3 separate regions of the Homo sapiens genome follow, and all the other regions are linked to region 1. Evidence: fine-mapped expression QTL. A gene starts in region 1. Each other region holds a variant in brackets. All regions are shown on one strand. Distances are from middle to middle. Region 1 holds the start of SPHK1 (sphingosine kinase 1). Region 2 overlaps UBE2O (ubiquitin conjugating enzyme E2 O). Region 3 has its middle 9.0 kb from the start of PRPSAP1.

Evidence for each region. PIP is the estimated chance that this variant, and not a neighbour inherited with it, causes the effect.
Region 2: its variant is fine-mapped to the expression of SPHK1 in whole blood (INTERVAL, PIP above 0.99).
Region 3: its variant is fine-mapped to the expression of SPHK1 in esophagus mucosa (GTEx, PIP above 0.99).

The regions. Positions count from the first base shown.
Region 1 is chr17:76,381,516-76,388,351 of GRCh38, forward strand. SPHK1 (sphingosine kinase 1) reads left to right here and starts at 3,094. Exons shown (of 6, transcript NM_001142601.2): 1 at 3,094-3,291; 2 at 3,936-4,139; 3 at 4,470-4,622; 4 at 4,706-4,800; 5 at 4,878-4,993; 6 at 5,291-6,340. The coding sequence starts at 4,130. The coding sequence ends at 6,071. RefSeq lists silencers at 1,732-2,021, 2,042-2,181, 2,762-3,461.
Region 2 is chr17:76,402,280-76,409,115 of GRCh38, forward strand. UBE2O (ubiquitin conjugating enzyme E2 O) reads right to left here. Exons shown (of 18, transcript NM_022066.4): 2 at 3,234-3,293; 3 at 2,927-3,037; 4 at 323-420. Among named protein-coding and RNA genes, the nearest start is that of SPHK1, 21 kb to the left of the region's middle. The variant C/T (reference allele first, on the strand shown) is at 3,161.
Region 3 is chr17:76,359,539-76,366,374 of GRCh38, forward strand. No RefSeq gene overlaps it. Among named protein-coding and RNA genes, the nearest start is that of PRPSAP1, 9.0 kb to the left of the region's middle. The variant A/G (reference allele first, on the strand shown) is at 4,020.

The DNA.
Region 1 (6,836 bases):
CTCTTTCTTTTTTTTTTTGAGATGGAGTTTCGCCCTGTCACCCAGGCTGGAGTGCAATGGGACGATCTCAGCTCACCACAACCTCTGCCTCCTGGGTGCAAGCAATTCTCCTGCCTCAGCCTCCCAAGTAGCTGGGACTACAGGTATGCGCCACCACACCCGGTGTAGAGACGGGGTTTGAGACGGGTTTCTCCACGTTGGTCAGGCTGGTCTCCAACCCCCGATCTCAGGTGATCCACCCACGTCGGCCTCCCAAAGTGCTAGGATTACAGGAGTGAGCCACTGCGCCCGGCCTGCTGCTTCCTCCTCCTCAGGGAGACGCCACAGCTCTGCGGCAAGCAATCCACCAGGCACCAGATCCCCAGATACCTGCCCTTCAGGGAGAAATAGCCTGGGATACAGAGAGGCCCAGAGGGGAGCTCTGGCTGGACTTGGCTTCTCAGCGTGGGGTCTGGGTTCACAGGTTTGCTTCTCTGCTTTGTGGGGAACTGGTTGGAGGCTTGTGCAAGCCTCTTCACCTCTCAGGGTTTCAGGCCCCCCCAACTCCTTCCCGCCTTGTCCTTTTTTCTTTTTTAAAAAAGGAAGTAAAGTACAGTGGGAAACGGGCCAAGCTGGCAGCTTGAGAGATCCAAGTGCCCGCCCCCCGACCCGCAACCGTGGGAAGGGGAACCATCTTGCTCTTGGCCAATCCTGCCTCTCTGAGCAGGGATGCAGCTGGGGGAGTTTCTGGAGATAGGATCAAATTCTTTAGAAAGGGAGAAGGGGAAAGGGGTCTGGAGAAAGGCAGCCTGGGTTGGGGGAAGTGAATGACAAGAATGAGGGGGGCAAAGGCCTTGGAGGTGAGGGGGGCAGGGGGTTAGGCGCCAGGGAGGACAGAGGACCCATTGTGCGGCCTGGAACCGGGGCCAGAGGGCTTTGCCCTTCGCCTCCCTCCCGCGGGGCCTTCCAGAGCCAGGAGGGGAGCTGGGGCCCGGAGGCGTTGGATAAAGAGCCCGTGCCCCGCCTCCCCTTGCCAACTCAGTTTGCAGTCAACCCCGCCCCCGCCCGCTCCGCGGACTCAAGGCTGGTGGTAGTGGGCCTGGAGGCGCAGGATCCGACCTTTCTGGGGCCCCAGGAGGAAAAAAAAAGGGGGGACCCTGAACCAGGTGGGCTTTATCACCACGAACTCACAGTGCTTCCCTGTGCCTCAGTTTCCCCTCTTCAGACTCTATGGCTAATGACAGAGCTTTTCAGATTTGGTGGAAATGCTCTCCGGGGCGGGGAGCAGACGGGGAAGGCTGCCCCAGCTAATCTCCGCAGCCAGTACCCTCGAAGGCTGAGATCTCGGGGAGCACAGCCTCCGATTCGCGTTTTCTAGGCACCAAAGTCCCTCGCTGGAGGAAGAGGAGGGGAAGAAGGCAGAGGAGAGGGGAGGGGCGGACGGATCTGGTCCTGGGCTCCCGCGCGGAGCCCCCTCCTCCCACAGCCGCCGCTCGCGTCCCCGCAGCGCATGACCGCGGCACTGCGGCTGCAGGGCTCTCTCCCCCGCCCGCGCCGGATTCCTGGAGCAAGGGGGTGGGGGGCTCGGAGGTGCAGGACCCATCATTCCGACACGCGCCGCGACGCCAGGAGTCGGGGATGACGCCCCTGCTCCCTCCCCTCGTTCCTGTTTCTCGGAGTTTTTCGACCCCTGAGCGCGTCGCTGAGTCACCTTCCCGGAACGCGCTCGGGACGCTCTGGACCCAGCGGGGACTGCCCGGGGGCCGCGCAAGGCGAAGGCGCACCCGCCGATACGCGCGCGGAGCTGCGGCCCCAGGGACCCCGCGTCCCAGCCAGTGCCCCCCGACCCGCCCGGGGACTCTCGGGTCCCGCCCGTCTGACCCCCCAAGTGTTGGGAAACGGGGCCGAGCTGCCTGGGTCCTCCGGAAGAGAAGACACCGCGGAGGCGTGCCGGAGTTCAGGGCGCCGCCCGGCTAATTGGCTGCGTGCTCCTCCTGGACCTGCCTCTTCTCGACTTTAAGAAGCGATGAGAGAGGTGTGTGGGGGCGGGTGGGGCCGGCGGGGGCGCGCGAGCCCCGCAGCCTCCCGCAGGGGCTTGGTTTCTCCTAACTCTGGCCCTACCTGGGCAGGTCACCAATGGGCCTTGGCAACTTCTTCCTCCGTCTCCGCCGTAACCCCCCAGGGATCTAACTCGAGGTGCTCGCGGACACGTTCTGTGGCTTGCCGCGATAAGTGTATCACAAACACACTGACAAACGCGTCCCTACTGGCCTCCAAAGAAGTGACAACTTCTGAGCGCGTTTCCGGCGCCCCTTCTTCACGCTGAGCCAGAGGGGGCGGGGGGCACGTACCACATGCTTGGCTTTCCAATCCCGACGGGGGCCCCCAGGCCCATCTACACTGTCAAGCCTCCTCTCCGGCTCGGAGCCCCCGGCCTGTCGCCTGCTCTACCCGGGACAGCGCGCTAGGCGGCCTCAGGCTCGGTAGCCCAGCTGCAGCGTCGGGAAGTTAAAAATAACCTCCGTGGGAGCGCGGGGGAGGAAGAAAGAGGGAAGCTGGTGGGCGGCGGGCGAGACGCCCCGGCCTGGAGAGGCGCCCCGGGTGGCGTGCGGGCCTCGAATTTCGGGTGGGCTAGGGCAGAGCGCGCAAAAGGGGCGCTGCATCCCGGCGCCGACAGCACCCGCGGGGGCGAGGTCGTGGCGTCGAGGTGAAACCAAGGGTCCCCCGGGAGAGCGGAGCCGCGCGCGCCCGGCGCTCGCTCCGACACGAGTTCGCGCGGAGCCCGCGCCTCCGTCTGCGCTGCGCGGTCGCTTTCGCGCGCCCCAGACACTGCGCTCGCGGCCGGGCCCGGGACTCCGCGCCTCGCGGCCTGCCGCCTCAGCTCACCCGGCCAGGTCGCGGCGCCGCCTTCTAGCCAGACGCCTAGGACGAGCGGCGGGGGCGCGCTTGCCGCTTCCTAGGACCCGGGCGGGAACCAGCTCGTGGCCCGGCCGTGGGCGCGGGCCGTGCCGGAGGCGGCGCGCTGAGGCCGGAGGCGGGCAGAGGCCGAGGCCGCGCCGGGCTCAGGTTCCACCCCCGGGAGCGCGGGGCGGAGCCAGGCCGGCGCCGAGGCTCAGTGCCCTCCCCGCTCCGCGGCGCCGGCTGCGAAGTTGAGCGAAAAGTTTGAGGCCGGAGGGAGCGAGGCCGGGGAGTCCGCTCCAGCGGGGCGCTCCAGTCCCTCAGACGTGGGCTGAGCTTGGGACGAGCTGCGTTCCGCCCCAGGCCACTGTAGGGAACGGCGGTGGCGCCTCCCCAGCAAACCGGACCGACTGGGTAGGGCCGCCCACCCTGCCTTCGCGCCGCTCGTGGCTCCTGTGCGGCCCGCCCTCGCGGGGCCCCGGGAACTGGGCCACTTGTCGCTTGGGCGAGAGCAGGCGGCAGCTGGTGGCCCGGTTCGGGCTTGGCTTTGGCGCGACCCGGGAGCGGCTCCCACGAGCGCCGCGCGCGTCGCAACGGAGCGGGGCCCTGAGAAGCGCGCGCCGCGGCTCCCACCGCTCTGGAGCTCCGGGCAGGGGACACGGCAACCTGGATGGCTGGGGCAGGGATCCTCTCCCAGAACTTCGTGCCCAGCAATGTCCGCTCAAGTTCTGGGATTTTTACGCAGCTGGACTCCCCTCCCCCTGGCAGCCCCGAGGGGTGAGGAGCTAGTCCGTCGGAGGGAGCCACGGGGCTCTGACTCATCCGTCGGGCCGGAACCGAACCCCAAGCCCCAGGGAGAAAGCCCCGGAGCAGGCGCCCTTCTCAGGGATTGTAGGCTTAGTCACACGGCGGGGGCGCCCTCGGAGGCACCGGACCTCAGCTCTCTGGACTTCCCGGGAACCTGGCTCCCCGCGCGTGGTCCCGGGATTTAGTCGGGCGCTCCCCACCTCTGGCAGCTGCGGCCCCGGACTCCGCCAGCGCTGTCTTCTCTCCCTCAGGTCCAGCCGCCGCAGGGAATGACGCCGGTGCTCCTGCAGCCACGGCTCCGGGCGGGGAAGGCGAGCCCCACAGCCGGCCCTGCGACGCCCGCCTGGGCAGCACCGATAAGGAGCTGAAGGCAGGAGCCGCCGCCACGGGCAGCGCCCCCACAGCGCCAGGGACCCCCTGGCAGCGGGAGCCGCGGGTCGAGGTTATGGATCCAGGTTTGTGGGGTTCCTGCTGGGAAGGGCTGTAGGGGGATTCCTGTTCCTCGCCAGGAATGATGGAACGCCCAGCTGGACGAAAGGGGCTGTGGACGATCGGGAGAAACATTATCCCTCACGAGGCCAGAAGCCGGCCGAATCTGAGCCAAGGAAGGGGGTGGCAGGGGCGCCGCGTCCCCACCCCAGGTCTCCCAGCAAAGGCCGCTCCTCTGGCCAGGGTCAATTACCGGGGTGTTTCGGGCACCAAGTTCCCACACTAGTGCCCCATTGTTACCCGTGGCCCCCTAGTGGTCGGTTGCGGACGTGGCCTCTTTGGTTTTGTTTTCTCAGCGGGCGGCCCCCGGGGCGTGCTCCCGCGGCCCTGCCGCGTGCTGGTGCTGCTGAACCCGCGCGGCGGCAAGGGCAAGGCCTTGCAGCTCTTCCGGAGTCACGTGCAGCCCCTTTTGGCTGAGGCTGAAATCTCCTTCACGCTGATGCTCACTGGTGAGTACCTCTCGGAGGGGGTTTCGGGAGCATCCCCTGGCAGGGGACCCCCCCAGTCCTGATAGCTGCCGGTCTCCCTGCAGAGCGGCGGAACCACGCGCGGGAGCTGGTGCGGTCGGAGGAGCTGGGCCGCTGGGACGCTCTGGTGGTCATGTCTGGAGACGGGCTGATGCACGAGGTGAGGACCGCACTGCGCGGCTAGGCCTGGGGCTTGGCGCGGTGCGTCCCAGGCTGAGGCCACGTGTGCTTCAACAGGTGGTGAACGGGCTCATGGAGCGGCCTGACTGGGAGACCGCCATCCAGAAGCCCCTGTGTAGCCTCCCAGCAGGCTCTGGCAACGCGCTGGCAGCTTCCTTGAACCATTATGCTGGGTGAGAGCCCAGGGCCAGAGTAGGCCTGTTTCCCGTCAGTGCTCCTCTACCGCGGGGGTTTTCTTGTCTAAGCTCCCATAGGCTGAGATCATTTCCATTTCCCCTTCTCCCTTAGTCCTGGGGCCCTCTCCTGGTGACCCCAGCTGACTGCTTCCATTTGCTCCATCTGTCACCTACCAGTCCTGCCAACTCCCCAGGGACCACATGGCGCTTTGCCAGCTCCCACTCCCCGGGAGGAGGAAGCGGGGGATACATGGGGGCTCCTGTCCTGCCTTATCTGACTTTTTCCCCCTGCAGCTATGAGCAGGTCACCAATGAAGACCTCCTGACCAACTGCACGCTATTGCTGTGCCGCCGGCTGCTGTCACCCATGAACCTGCTGTCTCTGCACACGGCTTCGGGGCTGCGCCTCTTCTCTGTGCTCAGCCTGGCCTGGGGCTTCATTGCTGATGTGGACCTAGAGAGTGAGAAGTATCGGCGTCTGGGGGAGATGCGCTTCACTCTGGGCACCTTCCTGCGTCTGGCAGCCCTGCGCACCTACCGCGGCCGACTGGCCTACCTCCCTGTAGGAAGAGTGGGTTCCAAGACACCTGCCTCCCCCGTTGTGGTCCAGCAGGGCCCGGTAGATGCACACCTTGTGCCACTGGAGGAGCCAGTGCCCTCTCACTGGACAGTGGTGCCCGACGAGGACTTTGTGCTAGTCCTGGCACTGCTGCACTCGCACCTGGGCAGTGAGATGTTTGCTGCACCCATGGGCCGCTGTGCAGCTGGCGTCATGCATCTGTTCTACGTGCGGGCGGGAGTGTCTCGTGCCATGCTGCTGCGCCTCTTCCTGGCCATGGAGAAGGGCAGGCATATGGAGTATGAATGCCCCTACTTGGTATATGTGCCCGTGGTCGCCTTCCGCTTGGAGCCCAAGGATGGGAAAGGTGTGTTTGCAGTGGATGGGGAATTGATGGTTAGCGAGGCCGTGCAGGGCCAGGTGCACCCAAACTACTTCTGGATGGTCAGCGGTTGCGTGGAGCCCCCGCCCAGCTGGAAGCCCCAGCAGATGCCACCGCCAGAAGAGCCCTTATGACCCCTGGGCCGCGCTGTGCCTTAGTGTCTACTTGCAGGACCCTTCCTCCTTCCCTAGGGCTGCAGGGCCTGTCCACAGCTCCTGTGGGGGTGGAGGAGACTCCTCTGGAGAAGGGTGAGAAGGTGGAGGCTATGCTTTGGGGGGACAGGCCAGAATGAAGTCCTGGGTCAGGAGCCCAGCTGGCTGGGCCCAGCTGCCTATGTAAGGCCTTCTAGTTTGTTCTGAGACCCCCACCCCACGAACCAAATCCAAATAAAGTGACATTCCCAGCCTGCTCGTCCTGTCCTGGTGACTGGGGAGAGAATGGGTTCTCGTTCTGGCCGGGACTATAGAATTTAATGGTAATGATGGCCAATGGTGCCCCCTGGGATGGGCAATGGATTTTACTGGCCCCAGGCATAGTCATTCTGGTGGGGGACTCAGGACCAGAGCTGGTTCAGCCTAATGGTGGGGGGGCCTCTACCACCCTGATAATTATAGCACCTCCAACCTGAAGCAGCCTCAGAGCTCAGCCAGCTGCCTGACCACACACAGGATGCAGCTCGGAGCTGGCATGTCTCAGCCAGGGCCACACAAGCAGCTAGTCCCAGCAAATCTCATCAGAGCCCCATGTGGATTTAGCAGGAAAGGGGAAATATCTGAGTTAAGGGCATTAGAAAACTGATGGGCCAGGCGTGGTGGCTCACACCTGTAATCCCAGCACTTTGGGAGGCTGAGGTGGGTGGATCACTTGAGCCCAGAAGTTTGAGACCAGCCTGGGCAACA
Region 2 (6,836 bases), 21 kb after region 1:
CACAACGAACAAGACCCCAAGTGCCACTGGAGTGCTTGCTCAGCACCATCACAGTGCCTCAAGTAAAGCATCAGCCTCTAGCAGATATCCTCAGTGAAAACGTTTCTCCCCATGCCAGGACAGATCAGAAACTGAGCAACAGAAATAGGCCACGGCAGATAAGGAGAACGGTACAGGGTTAGGCCCTGGATGCCTGCAACATCTGTCACTGCCCTTGATCAAACCTGTCATCACTGTCCCCAGGAGGAAACACCCTCCTCCTCCCCTCTTTCCAAGAGGCTATCCTTCCCAAGCCGATGGCTCTCTGGTGGTGAGACTCTACCTGGCGCCGTTGGATAGCTTCAGGATGATCTGGTTCTTCAAGTCGTAGACCTTCCCCAGCCAGCAGTCATAGGCAATGTAGTCCCCATACATGAAGGGCTGCAGACCAAGGAGGCAGGGGCAGTGAGACACAGCAGACAACGTTCATGTCCAGGGCACAGATTCCTCTATGCCCCACCGAAGACAGGATGGGGGAGGATCTAGACAGCTCACTGACTGGACCGGTTGGCTACTAGCCCTAAACAGCTGCTGCAGCAGGCCCTCCCTACAAGTTCTAGGCTGCATCCCAGCTGCTCTTCCCAGTGAGGAGGAAGTGGTGGTGGTGGTGGGGCTGCCTGGAGGGAACGGGGTGGGTGATGCAGGGGCAGAGAGGCCTGATGGCATCCATGGACATGGGACATCCATGGACACAGGACACCTGGCAAAGTAGGCTGTGGAGGTGGCAGGCAGAGGAGGCAGCCACACCACTGGGGGGTGGCTACATGGACAGTGCTCTGAGTAAATACGTTAACACATCAAGGATATCGAGAGCCAAGTCCCTCATTGTTGGAGAAGGTGCCCAGGTGTTTACTAACAGAAAGGGAGCAGGAAGGAGAAGAAGGAAGAGGAGTCTGAGGTGTTTAGGTGGAAGTGGATCTATCAGGATGAACTCATATATTTTATTTTACTTTATTATTATTTTTTTTAGAGACAGGGTCTTGCTCTATTGCCCAGGCTGGAGTGCAATGGTGTGATCTTGGCTTAATGCAACCTCCATCTTTGGGCTCAAGCGACTCTCCCACCTCAGTCTTCTGAGTAGCTGGGACTACAGGCATGCATCACCGTGCCTGGCCAATTTTTTCATATATTTTGGTTGAGATGGGGTTTCGCCATGTTGCCCAAGCTGGTCTTAAACTCTTGAGCTCAAGTGATCCATCTGCCTCAGCCTCTCAAAGTGTTGGGATTACAGGGGTGAGCCACTGCGCCCGTGAACTCTGCCTGAACTCATATATTTTAATATACACATAGAGCAGGTAGTGACATATTTAGATGTGTGTATACATATAATACATATGTATTTCCTAGTGTGTCCCAAAAGAGCCAAGTAGCAATTAGCACACCTAGCATCCAGATCTTGGGTTTTAAAAATACCATTCTCTGAAAACAATGAGGCTTCTTGGAGAAATGGTTGATTCTGGGGCTGGATCACAAAAAGTACAAGATGAGCCTGGCACATCTCATGCCAGAAAGAAAGAAAGTTCTTAAAAAACCAACAAAAAGGGCCATGTGAGAAGGACATGAAAGCCAGCTTGAAGGGGTTCCCACTGGCTAAATCTGGGACCATCCAAGCAACAGAACAGATAATAGTAGTAATTAATTATAACCAATGAATAAAACAGAAATCTCTAAGTCCATACTGATAAAAAAAAAGAATACATAAATAGGGCAGAAGATAAAGCTCTTCTACAGAGCAGAATGCCAGCTAAAAGAAATGAGGGGAACAAGGGAGTCATAGAACCACCATTTAGCAACATCAGAGCAATGGCTGGCGCAGGGGGAACTGTGAATGGAGGCCAAAGCTGGTGGATTTCAGTTTGACAAATGACAGGTTATAGACATAATCTGGGACTACGTTCCCACAAAATACAATCACTTAAAGGGGGTAAATGGTGAGTTTATGGTGGAGAGACCTGGTGGACACCAACATGACCAGGGGTAAAAGTGAACAACCCCAGCACTTTGGCTATGGGGTACCATGAACCAGGGCAGAGCTCTGCGGCGGGCCTGCCAAGAACACGTGGGCATGAGGCAACACCAGGAAGACCCAGGCTGAGGGTCAAATTACTGAATGTATCACTGTTCAGGGCATGGAAGACAAAGAAAGGCTGGGAAGCGATTCCAGATTGGAGAGAAAATGAAGAGATGACAACTCAATGCAAGATGTGTTCCTGAATTGGGTCCTGGATCCGCAAAGAAGAAAAGAGTAGTGTTGGGACAACTGCATGTGGTCTGTGGACTGGACAGTAATTATCAACGTTGATTTCCCAATCTGGGGGTTATATGGTGGTTGCACAGGAGGCTGTCCTCATTTTTGGAAAACACACAAGAGGTGTGTGTATTCCGGGGTGGGTGACAGGGCATCACATCTATAGCTTGCTGTCAAATGTTTTGGGAAGAAAAAAGACCGGAGGGGGATCTCGGGGAAAAGGAGGGAGGGAAGGTGATGGAGCAAACGAAGTGAAATCTTAACAGCTGAGGAACCTGGATGGAGGGACACAGGAATTTACAACTTTTGGTAAGTTTGAAATCATTAAAAAAATAAACTATTTCCAATAATTTATTTTTTTAAAGAAATGTTAGAGGAGAAAGGAAAAACACTTAAAGATAACCACACTGGCAGCCTATGCTGGGGTTGGGGAAGGGCACGTCCTGACCTCATGTCTAAATGGCTTACTTGAAAGCAGCGAAAACAAGGCTACAGGAGCCAGCTGGCTGCTGTGCTCCGCCTTCTGACCCAGGAAGGCTGTGCTTGGCAAGAGCACGGAGGAGGCTGTAGCCCAGAGGTCGTGCCGCCGAGAGAACCAGAGGGCCCAGAAAGGATGATGAGAAGACAGGGCCGGCTCACCCAGATGTGCTGCAGGTCCTTGCTGTTGACGGGATAGATGATGCAGTTGGTGCCGATGAGCTTGACGGCACAGTCGATGTTGACGTCGATCACCGTGCCACACTGACTGTCCTGGGGGAGGGAGGAGACATGCAAGTCCCGTGGTGCAGCAGCCCTGGTCACCAGGGGAGACCCAGCCCAGGCAACCCCAGCGCACCCCCTGCAGAGCTGGCCAGTTCTCCCACATGCAGAGTG[C/T]GAGGTGGGCAGGCTCAAGTCCCTAAGGTGGCTGCCCCCAGGCCCGGGGCTGGGGTGGGGACGCAGGACTCACGGTGGATCGCATGTGCCGGACCACATCTCGGGGCACCACAGAACGGTCCTCTAGTTTCAGCTGTAAAAGAAAATACAGGTGTGAGAGAATGGACTCTGAAGCCACCACAGAATACAGTTTTCTTCCAGCTTCTGAAGGAAAGCGTCACATCCACACTGCTAAGTGCACAAATCCTAAGCGTTTGGCTAGCAGTATCTTCACAGACCGCACACACCTCCGACCAGCACCCAGACCCACAGGCAGAGCGCGTCACGCCCACAGGCCTCCTGGGGCCCCTGTGGTCACTGTCTCACCCACCAGAGGCACTTGGCTTGCCGGAGGTAGCCTTCCTCACACTGAACAGTGCAGCTCAATGACAGATCACATAAGGCTGCACTTTAATGAAGGATTTAACAGCCCATTCTACAGAGAGCAAAACATTTGCTTTGCGTTCAATCTTTTTTCTGCCCTCTGCAAGTGCCTGCCCTAGCTGATCAGTGCTGAGGGAGAGTGGGCTGGGGGAGAAGCAGGACACTGGGCTGCGGTGGGTCACCCTGAAGCCTGGCTATCACCGGACACCATGTTCTAATCTGGGTTATCCTCCTGACCAGCTGCGGCCTGCACCTTATCTGCTGCGCTTGGAGCCCTGCAGGCTGCTAAGTAACCCTCAGGATGGTTGGCTCTTGGAGCCCGGCCAACTGCACGAGCACCTGATTGTCTCTTTACGCACAGCTGGCAGCGGCCACTGCCTCCTGCTGCTCCATCGCCCAAAAGCCCAGGCACGTGATGCTCCCACCAGGCCAGCCTGCGTCTTTTTTAGCTGGTTCCTCAAACCTGGGGCAGCTCCTCTATGGTTCTTCACTGGGTCATAATCATGGATGGGTCTCTGTGTGTGTCCACCTCCGAGACCCCAAACCACATGGCTGGAGAGCTGTTTCCTCAAATAGCCAACCAGACACTCCTCCGTGGTGGCCTCTCTTGACCTGGGGGCACTGAGAGGTCACCACCAAGAAAGGAGAACTGAGTCGCCGAAAAAGGAAGATACTGGCTCAAGGTCACTTAAATGCTGGCAATGACAACTAAAACAAACTCTGCTAGTAGAAGAACGTGACTCACAAAAAAAAAAAGGAAAGAAAAGCAATGAACCCCACCACCAACCAGCAGTGCAGAGAGTCCCATGGGAACTCATGAGCCCAAGTTGTTTTTTTTTTTTTTTTTTTTTTTTTGAGATGGAGTCTCGCTGTGTTGCCCAAACTGGAGTGCAATGGCGCAGTCTCGGCTCGCTGCAACCTTCGCCTCCCAGGTTCAAGCAATTCTCCCGTCTCAGCCTCCCGAGTAGGTGGGACTGCAGGCACGTGCCACCACGCCCGGCTAATTTTTGTATTTTTAGTAGAGATGGGGCTTCACCATGTTGGCCAGGCTGGTCTCGAACTCCTGACCTCGTGATCTGCCCACCTCAGCCTCCCAAAGTGCTGGGATTACAGGCGTGAGCCACTGCATCCAGGTATGAGCCTGTTTCAAATGACAACTTGCCCAGTCCTTAAACGCAGGGTTCTTGAGTCAGACACAGGAACGTCAGGCAAACCACTCCTGCCGACATGTGGAAGGAGAGATGATGGCAGCTGTCTCAGCATGGCTGAGGTGGAGTCACCAAGGCAGCGGACCGCAGGTGGCACATGGTGCACGGTACAGAGTAGGTGCTCAGCAAGGTCGGCAGCTGTGATCACTGGCCCTGTGAGCTGCAGGGTGAAGACCCCTGAAAGGTCAGGCTCTCCTTATCTCTGCTCCAAGACCCCAGGAGGCTGGAGAGGCATGCTGGCGTGACGGTGCCACTTTTCTAAATCAAAGAATATTCTGTGCCTGTAACCCTCTGTGCCCAAATCTCCACTCTGAGATACGGCATTTTTTTGTGCTGCCCCACCCTATCTTAATCCCCTGCTCCCATTTTAGACTTCAAAAAGCCACAATTGCTCCCAGAGAAGCCAGAAGCGGCAGGACAGGAGAATCCAATGCAAGGGGGGCTGCACCATGTGTGGCAGGAGGGCTGCCTCCACCACTTGGGGGTCCCTGAGAGAGCAGCCAGGAAAGGAGGAGAGAAGAACGCAGACACAGACCTAAATCAGTGCCGTCACTGATGAAACACCCTGTTCAGCCTAACAGCACCCTTGGGAGTGCAGGGGAAACCGAGGTGTCAACTCTGAGGCTGAAGCAGAAAAAAACAGCTGGTGAAAGCTGGCATCATGGCAAGGCCAGAGGCTGGCAGGGCAGGCAGTGCCCAGTGCTCCCAGGAGAGGGAGGCTGGCAGCAAATGCCATTCTTCCCGTGGGGTCTCCAGACAACAGCAGCTCCACCTCACCAGGATGCTGCCTCCAGGGGCTCTTCTGACCTTTCTATGACAAGGAGTTACATTTCTCCAAAGACCTGATGGTGCTGGGAGCAGAGTGGGAGCGACAAGGGGCTGGGGGATGGTAACATGGTGGCTACACTCCCTTCCACTGGGAATTAGAACCCAAGACAACGGCATGTGGAAGGACTTAGGATGACTTGGGAGGCTCTTGTGACTTTCCTTCCTAACTTCCTATACCCCACCCATACTGGGCACTGGCTTTCTCCAAATAAGCCCATACCCTCCCATCTGTGAGCCACTCCACTGAACAGTTACTTCCAAATGTCCTCCTCTCCCTGCCCCCGTATGCACAACCTGCTTCACAAAGCCTTTCAGTGCCCCCGTCAGGAAGGAACCGACGTGCTCCTGGCGAATGCAAGAGCTCTGGAGTTTTTCGCCTCATGCTAACCAGGTGCTTCCTACCTGGCAGACAGTTCTCCAAGCGTTTCACTGTCTTCGCCCATGAGGTGCTCCACAACCCATGAAGCACATCACTGCCATGCTCATTTTGCAGATACGCAAACTGAGACCAAGAGAAAATAAGCAACTCATTCAATGTCACAAGTAGTGGAGCTGGGACCTGAACGCAGGCAGTTTGGCTCCAGAGTCCATTCTCTTAACCAAATAAAAAGCTCATCTCTCCCCAGAGCTACAGAGACAGGGAAAGACTTCTGGCAGGTCTACACATTTAAAGACAGTGATTCTTCTGCTTATGAAAGAAAGAAAAACTCTCTTCATTTCTGAGGCAAGTGGAAGGCAGCAATGGTGGCCACTGACTGCGGATGCCTGCTAGGCACAGTTTGCCCTCCACTTCCCCTTCTACCTCCAAAGAGCAAATGACAGGTGCCAGCCGGCCTGGCAGGTGAACACTAGAGGGCACTGTGCCCACTCTGGGAAAGCACCAGATTTGTGAACAAAACTAAACCTTGGAATAAACCCAATCCCTACTGTTAAGGGGTGCCCTGCTTGTAGTTTAAAAAAAAATTGTTACTAGGAGGGGATCTGGGGTCGGGGGTGAAGAGATTTCAACTGTCCTCATGGGCTCTGAAATTCTAAACAACCTCAGAGTTGGTGAGCTATTTATTGTCTAACATTTCTTTTTTTTTTTTGAGATGGAGTCTCACTCTCTGGCCCAGGCTGGAGTGCAGTGGCGCGATCTCGGCTCACTGCAAGCTCCGCCTCCCGGGTTCACGCCATCCTCCTGCCTCAGCCTCCTGAGTAGCTGGGACTACAGGCGC
Region 3 (6,836 bases), 22 kb before region 1:
TGGCAAAATAACCTGACTTAGACATTATCTGAGTCATATTTTCCTGCATGTCTTAAGAGAAAGAAGGCGCACAGGGACGTGTTTGAGGACCTGAGACTCCCTTAAGAGGCTTTTATTATTTTTATTTATTTATTTTTTAAGAGACAGGGTCTCACTATGTTACCCAGGCTGGACTCAAACTCCTGGGTTCAAATGACGCTCCCGAGCAGCTGGAATTGAGGCTTTTATTATTGAAAGCCTAAATTCCCAAAGGCAAGAACTGAAGTGTCCCTGAGTGCCCCAGCCTTGGAGAGGGGGAGTCCTCACAAATTGAAGGGACAGTTGGACGAGGAGGTGGGGACTCCAACAAGTACCCTGGGGACTCTCATAAAGATGAGGAAAGAATGAAGACCGGAGGCTCTCCTTGAAGCTCAGGAACTGCGGAAGGCCCTGGGGCTCTTTTATGTACCAGTCCTGGCAGAGGACTTGGAGTCAGATTTAATCTTGTTAAACAGAATTTGTGGCCCAGCATGGTGGCTCACGCCTGTAATTCCAGCACTTTGGGAGGCCGAGGTGGGAGGATCACCTGAGGTCAGGAGTTCGAGACCAGCCTGACCAACATGGTGAAAGCCTGTCTCTACTAAAAATACAAAAATTAGCTGGGTGTTGTGGCATCCGCCTATATTCGCAGCTGCTAGTGAGGCTAGGGCAGGAGAATCGCTTGAATCCGGGAGGCTGAGGTTGCAGTGAGCCGAGATCGCCCCATTGCACTCCAGCCTGGGCAACAGAGTGAGACTCTGTCTCAAAACAAAAAAGAGAGAGAGACTCTCTGAAATAAAGCAACGTTTATTTGGGATCGGGCATGACAATGGGAATATGTGTGCCATAGTAAACTATGTGTGTATCCAACTAGGTAAAGGAGGACGAACGTTTTTAGAGGAAGATTGAGGGGGATTACACAATTGTTTTGGGATAATTTTCCTTGGCTACAAGGATCAACAACAAGTGTGACCCAGTGCCAGGTTGTACAGGCAGTTGCTGGGCAGATGCCCTCGCAGAAGTATTTTTTGTGTAAGGTTTCAGTGGCCTTTGTGCAAGGTTGTGATTTTTGCTGAGTCTTCCGTGATAGTTTTTGTTATCTGGCATTTATGCATAAGAACCTTCTCTTTATAGCCTTTCCCAGCTCTATTTGTCAGAGCTTTTTGTTTTGTTTTAACACAAGTGACTCAATTTTGCTTCTGACAACTTCCACAGAGTCTTCATTTTTACTGATGGGTCAGGGATTTTTTTCTTTCTTTCTTTCTTTTTTTTTTGAGACTGAGTCTTGCTCTGTCACCCAGGCTGGAGTGCAGTGGCACAATCTCGGCTCACTGCAAGTTCCGCCTCCCGGGTTCACGCCATTCTCCTGCCTCAGCCTCCTGAGTAGCTGGGACGACAGGCGCCCGCCACCACGCCTGGCTAATTTTTTGTATTTTTAGTAGAGACGGGGTTTCACCGTGTTAGCCAGGATGGTCTCGATCTCCTGACCTTGTGATCCGCCCTCCTCGGCCTCCCAAAGTGCTGGGATTACAGGCATGAGCCACCGCGCCCGGCTGATTTTTTCTTTTTTTGAAATGAAGTTTTGCTCTTGTCACCCAGGCTGGAGTGCAACGGCACAATCTCGGCTCACCACAACCTCCGCCTCCTGGGTTCAAGCAATTATCCTGCCTCAGCCTCCCAAGTAGCTGGGATTACAGGCATGCGCCACCACGCCTGGGTAATTTTTGTATTTTTAGTAGAGATGGGGTTTCAACCATATTGGCCAGGGTGGTCTTGAACTCCTGACCTTGTGATCCGCCCGCCTCGGCCTCCCAAAGTGCTGGGATTACAGGCGTGAGCCACCGCGCCCGGCCTTAACATGTCTTTTTTGACGTTTGAAGTGAGACTTCACTTGACCAGTTTTGTTTTTTTTACCGTTTCTCTTTATAAGACCAGACTGACTCTTGAGGTTCCAGACCAGCTGGATACCTCCTGCCAGAACGAAGACAGCTGTGCCTCCACAAAATGACATTTTGCATCTACAACCCTATTTCAGTTTTCAAGTTTTAAAAAATGAGCTGCTTGTTAACCGGGCCAGTTTCGGCATGAATTATAGAAAGATCTCCTCTGTACTAGAAACTAGAAGACAAAGGGTGGCATAAGTAGAGATTTGGCATGAAATATTGTCCAGGAACAAACAGGACAAGACAAAGAGGGGTGTGTTTAGGATTGCTCAGCCCTGTCCCCAAGGGAGGAACTAATTGGAAGACAAGGTCAGTCTTTGCAAGGATAAAGAACATTTCAGGCAATAATTCAGAAGTTTTGCATCCACGTTGCGCCACTCCAACTTGAACTTTGGAAAAATATGAGGCCTTTCCCTGTTTTCATTCTCCAAACAAGCCTCAGCAAGCTGGGACTGAGTGATCTTTATTTCTAAAAATAATACCAACTTGGATCTCTAAGCTGATTCTCTCTATAGGGTACCAGAAACCATGCTGGGGGCAGGAGCAAAATACAGGCAGACAGAGCCAAGCCTGCTAGGAGTGACCCTTCCCAGCTTCAGCAAGGACAGTGGTAGGCAGCAGCTGCTGGGCTGGTCTCTGGAAAATCTGAAATGGAATCACAAGGCACTGAGTCCTCGACCTCACCTATGCCTCGGTTTCAGTAGCTCTTGGTGGGAGTCTTTGGAGGCATTTGAGGGGGTCTGAAATGCCCGAACATCATTGAAGACTTTGGTTCAAGTGGAAACCCTCAAGGGGCTTCTAGTGCCTTCTCTCTGTGCACCGCAGAAGCTCCTGCCAAATGACATGCTTCCTTGCCCCTATGGCCGGATTCATAGCTGCACTGGCAAGATGGGGTGGAAGAGACAGAAACGGAGCAAGGAAAAAGGCCAGGGCTGTAGGGGCTGAGAAGGCAGGAGGCAAACACTAAGGAGACATTATAACAACTCAGGAGGCAAATGATTCAGGAAGTCACAAGGTTCTTGGCTCAACTGTGCCAAATTTGTCAGTTCAAGAGGGTCCAGGTCTATGAGAGCTAAAAACCCCCAAACAATGCAAATGTCCAAAGGCAGCTATGGGCCGGCCATGGAGGCTCACATTTATAATCCCAGCCTCCCTTGGGAGGCCAAGGCGGGAGGATCACCTGAGGTCAGGAGTTTGAGACCAGCCTGGCCAACATGGTGAAACCCATCTCTACTAAAAATACAAAAAACTAGCTGGGCATGGTGGCAGATGCCTGCAATTCCAGCTACTCAGGAGGCTGAGGCAGGAGAATTGCTTGAAGCTGGGAGGCAGAGGTTGCAGCGAGCTGAGATGGCGCCACTGTACTCCAGCCTGGGCAACAAGAGCAAAACCCTGTCTCAAAAAATAAAATAGTAAAAAAAATAAGGCTGGGCGTGGTGGCTCACGCCTGTAATCCCAGCACTTTGGGAGGCCAAGGCGGGCGGATGGCTTGAGCCTAGAATTCAAGACCAGCCTGGGCAACATGGTGAAACCCTATCTCTACAAAAAACACAAAAGTTAGCTGGGCATGGTGGTTCATGTCTGTATTCCCAGCTAATTGGGAAGCTGAGGTGGGAGGATCCCTTGAGCCCAGGAGGTTGAGGATGCAGTGAGCTGTGAGACCCTGTCTCTTAAAAAAAAAAAAAAAAAAAAGGCAATCAAAGTGAGACAGGAGAATAGGATCTGGAAGCAGGGACTCTAAGGACTTCCTAGAACTGAATCAAATGGAAACACTTCAACTATGACAGGAAATATCCTCTCCATTTACATAGGGCGTACACCGAGTGAATGACTTTGTAACTTTACTTCATCCCTTCATTTACATAGGGCGTACACCAAGTAACCAATGGAAACTTCTAGAGGGTATTTAAACCCCCAAAAATTAGCCCCTATGCTCAGGCTGCTCTCACCCTGTGGAGTGTACTTTTGTTTTGTTTTTTCTTTTTTTTTTGAGACAGAGTCTTGCCCTGTCACCCAAGTTGGAATGCAGTGACACGATCTCAGGTTCAAGAAATTCTC[A/G]TGTCTCAGCCTCCTGAGTAGCTGGGATTATAGGCATCGCCACCACGCCCAGATAATTTTTGTTTTGTTTTGTTTCTGAGACAGAGTCTTCCTCTGTTGCCCAGGGTGGAGTGCAGCTGCACGATCTCAGCTCACTGCAAACCCCGCCTCTTGGGTTCAAGCGATTCTTCTGCCTCAGCCTCCTGAGTAGCTGGAATTACAGGCACGCACCACCACGCCCAGCTAATTTTTGTATTTTTAGTAAAGATGGGGGTTTCACCATATTGGCCAGGCTGGTTTTGAACTCCTGATCTCGTGATCCGCCTGCCTTGGCCTCCCAAAGTGCTGGGATTACAGGCATGAGCTACCGCGCCTGGCCTAATTTTTGTATTTTTAGTAGAGTCGGGGTTTCACCATGTTGGCCAGGCTGGTCTCGAACTCCTGGCCCCAAGTAATCCGCCTGCCTTGGCCTCCCAAAATGCTGCAGGGATTACAGGCGTGAGCCACCGCGCCCGGCCTGTACTTTTGTTTTCAATAAGTCTCTGCTTTTGTTGCTTCATTCTTTCCTTTGTTTGTTTGTGAATTTTGTACAATTATTTAAGACACCAAAAACCTGGACACCCTCCACCAGTAACAAAAGGATTTTCCCCAAAGTATATTTCTTTTTTTAAATTTTGAGATGGAGTTTCGCTCTTGTCTAGACTGGAGTGCAATGGTGCCATCTTGGCTCACTGCAACCTTGGCCTCCTGCCTCAGCCTCCCGAGTAGTGGGATTACAGGTGCCTGCCACCATGCCCAGCTAATTTTTGTATTTTTAGTAGATGGGGTTTCACCATGGTGGCCAGGCTGGTCTTGAACTCTTGACCTCAGGTGATCCACCAGCCACCTTGGCCTCCCAAAGTGTTGGGATTACAGGCATGAGCCACCGCGCCTGGTCTCCCAAAATACATTTTTTTGACATATTTTGAAATGGCCCTCCAAAGCTTTCTTTTATGGGGGAAATCTGCATTCTGTAGAGAATCCCCTTCCCTTCTCAGGTCTCTCTGGAGAGACTGGCACCTGTGACATTCACATCTCTTCTCTCAGAAGCCTGCTACCTGAAGGCGTCATCTACAAGACAAGAACTTTGGCTTCCACAACCACCCACCACTTACCATAACTCAAGCTGATTTCAGCTCTTCAGGCAGAGCTTACCATTTTCAACAAATTGCCAATCAGCAAATGTTGAAATCTACCTATGACCTGGAAACCACCCCCACTTCAAGATGTCCCACCTTTCTGGGCTGAGCCAATGTATACCTTACCTCTGTCCATTTATGTCTTTTCCTGTAACTTCTGTCTTCCTAAAATGTATAAATCAAGCCTTAGGCCGGGCACAGTGGCTCATGCCTGTAATCCCAGCACTTTGGCTGGCCGAGGCGGGCGGATCACTCGAGGTCAGAAGTTTGAGACCAGCCTGGGCAACATGGCGAAACTCCATCTCTACTAAAAATACAAAAAATTAGCTGGGTGTGGTGGCGCGAGCCTGTAATTCCAGCTACTTGGGAGGCTGAGGCAGGAGAATTGCTTGAACCCAGGATGTGGAGGTTGCAGAGATCGCACCACTTTACTCCAGCCGGGGAAACAGAGAGAGACTCTGTCTCAAAAAAAAAAAAAAAAAAAGGCTGGGTACAGTGGCTCATGCCTGACCCTGCCTGGAGGTTGCTGTGAGAGCTAAATGAGATGGAGAGTGGATGACAAGGAGGAGTGAGGTGCCCTGTGTGATCCTCCACGTTTTCCTGGAATTAGGAGAGCCCACCGCTGAGAATAAAATGCACCCCCAATTCTTGGTTCAGGGAACCACCCACTGAGGGGGCTGGCTGGGAGATGCCTCTCGACACTGACGCTGTCAACCCTGTGTGGAATTGAGAATTCCACTGGCTTTTGTTCCTGGTTCCTGGGAGGTAACCTGTAAATCCTCAGAATTTCCTGAGTGATAGTAGTGTCTGTGTTACTCACGATCGGGCCTCGGAGGACACCCGATCATTTATGCAAATGACTCTAGGTCCAGGAAGACCAACCGTGAGATTAGAAGGCTGTGGCTCTGGAGCCTGGGTGATGGAAGGTGATTGAGGCTACAGTGAGCTATGATCCTTCCACTGCACTCCAGCCTGGGCGACAGAGGGAGCCCTTGTCTCAAAACAAACAAACAAACAAAAAAATTTAAAAATTAGCTGGGTGTGTTGGTGCATGCTTACGGTCCCATAAGAGGGACCATAAGGGAGGATCATTTGAGCCCAGGAGTTTGAGGCTGCAGTGAGCCGTGATCACACCACTGCACTCCAGCCTGAACAACACAGCAAGAACCTGTCTCAAAAAAAAAAAAAAAAAAAAAAGCAGAAAGAAAAAGAAAACAAAATTAGAAGGTTGGGTCTTTGAGCCACTTGTTATCAGCCTGACTTCCGGGGACGGAGGGGCTGGAGCTTGAGTTTAGTGTGTGGTGTATGATTCCTCCATCATGCCTGCATATAAAACCCCAAGGACAACTCTACACAGAGGCTCGGGTGAGCTTCCCTGGTTAGTGATGCTCTGTCTATTGTCACAGATGGAGGTACCAGGAGGGTTAAGGTGTCCCTGAGGATAACAGCGCTTTGCACCGGGGACCCACCCAGCCCGGACGCAGTGCTTCTGGCTGTGGCTGGTTCTGATTCGTGTTCTTTTGCTGTAATAAAACTGTAAATGAAACTTCAGCATTTACCTGAGTGCTGTGAGTCATTCTAGTGAATTAGGAATCTGAGGGGGTGGTGGGAACCCCTGAATTTGAGGCCATCTGGTCAAAAGTGAGGACCCTGAACTTGC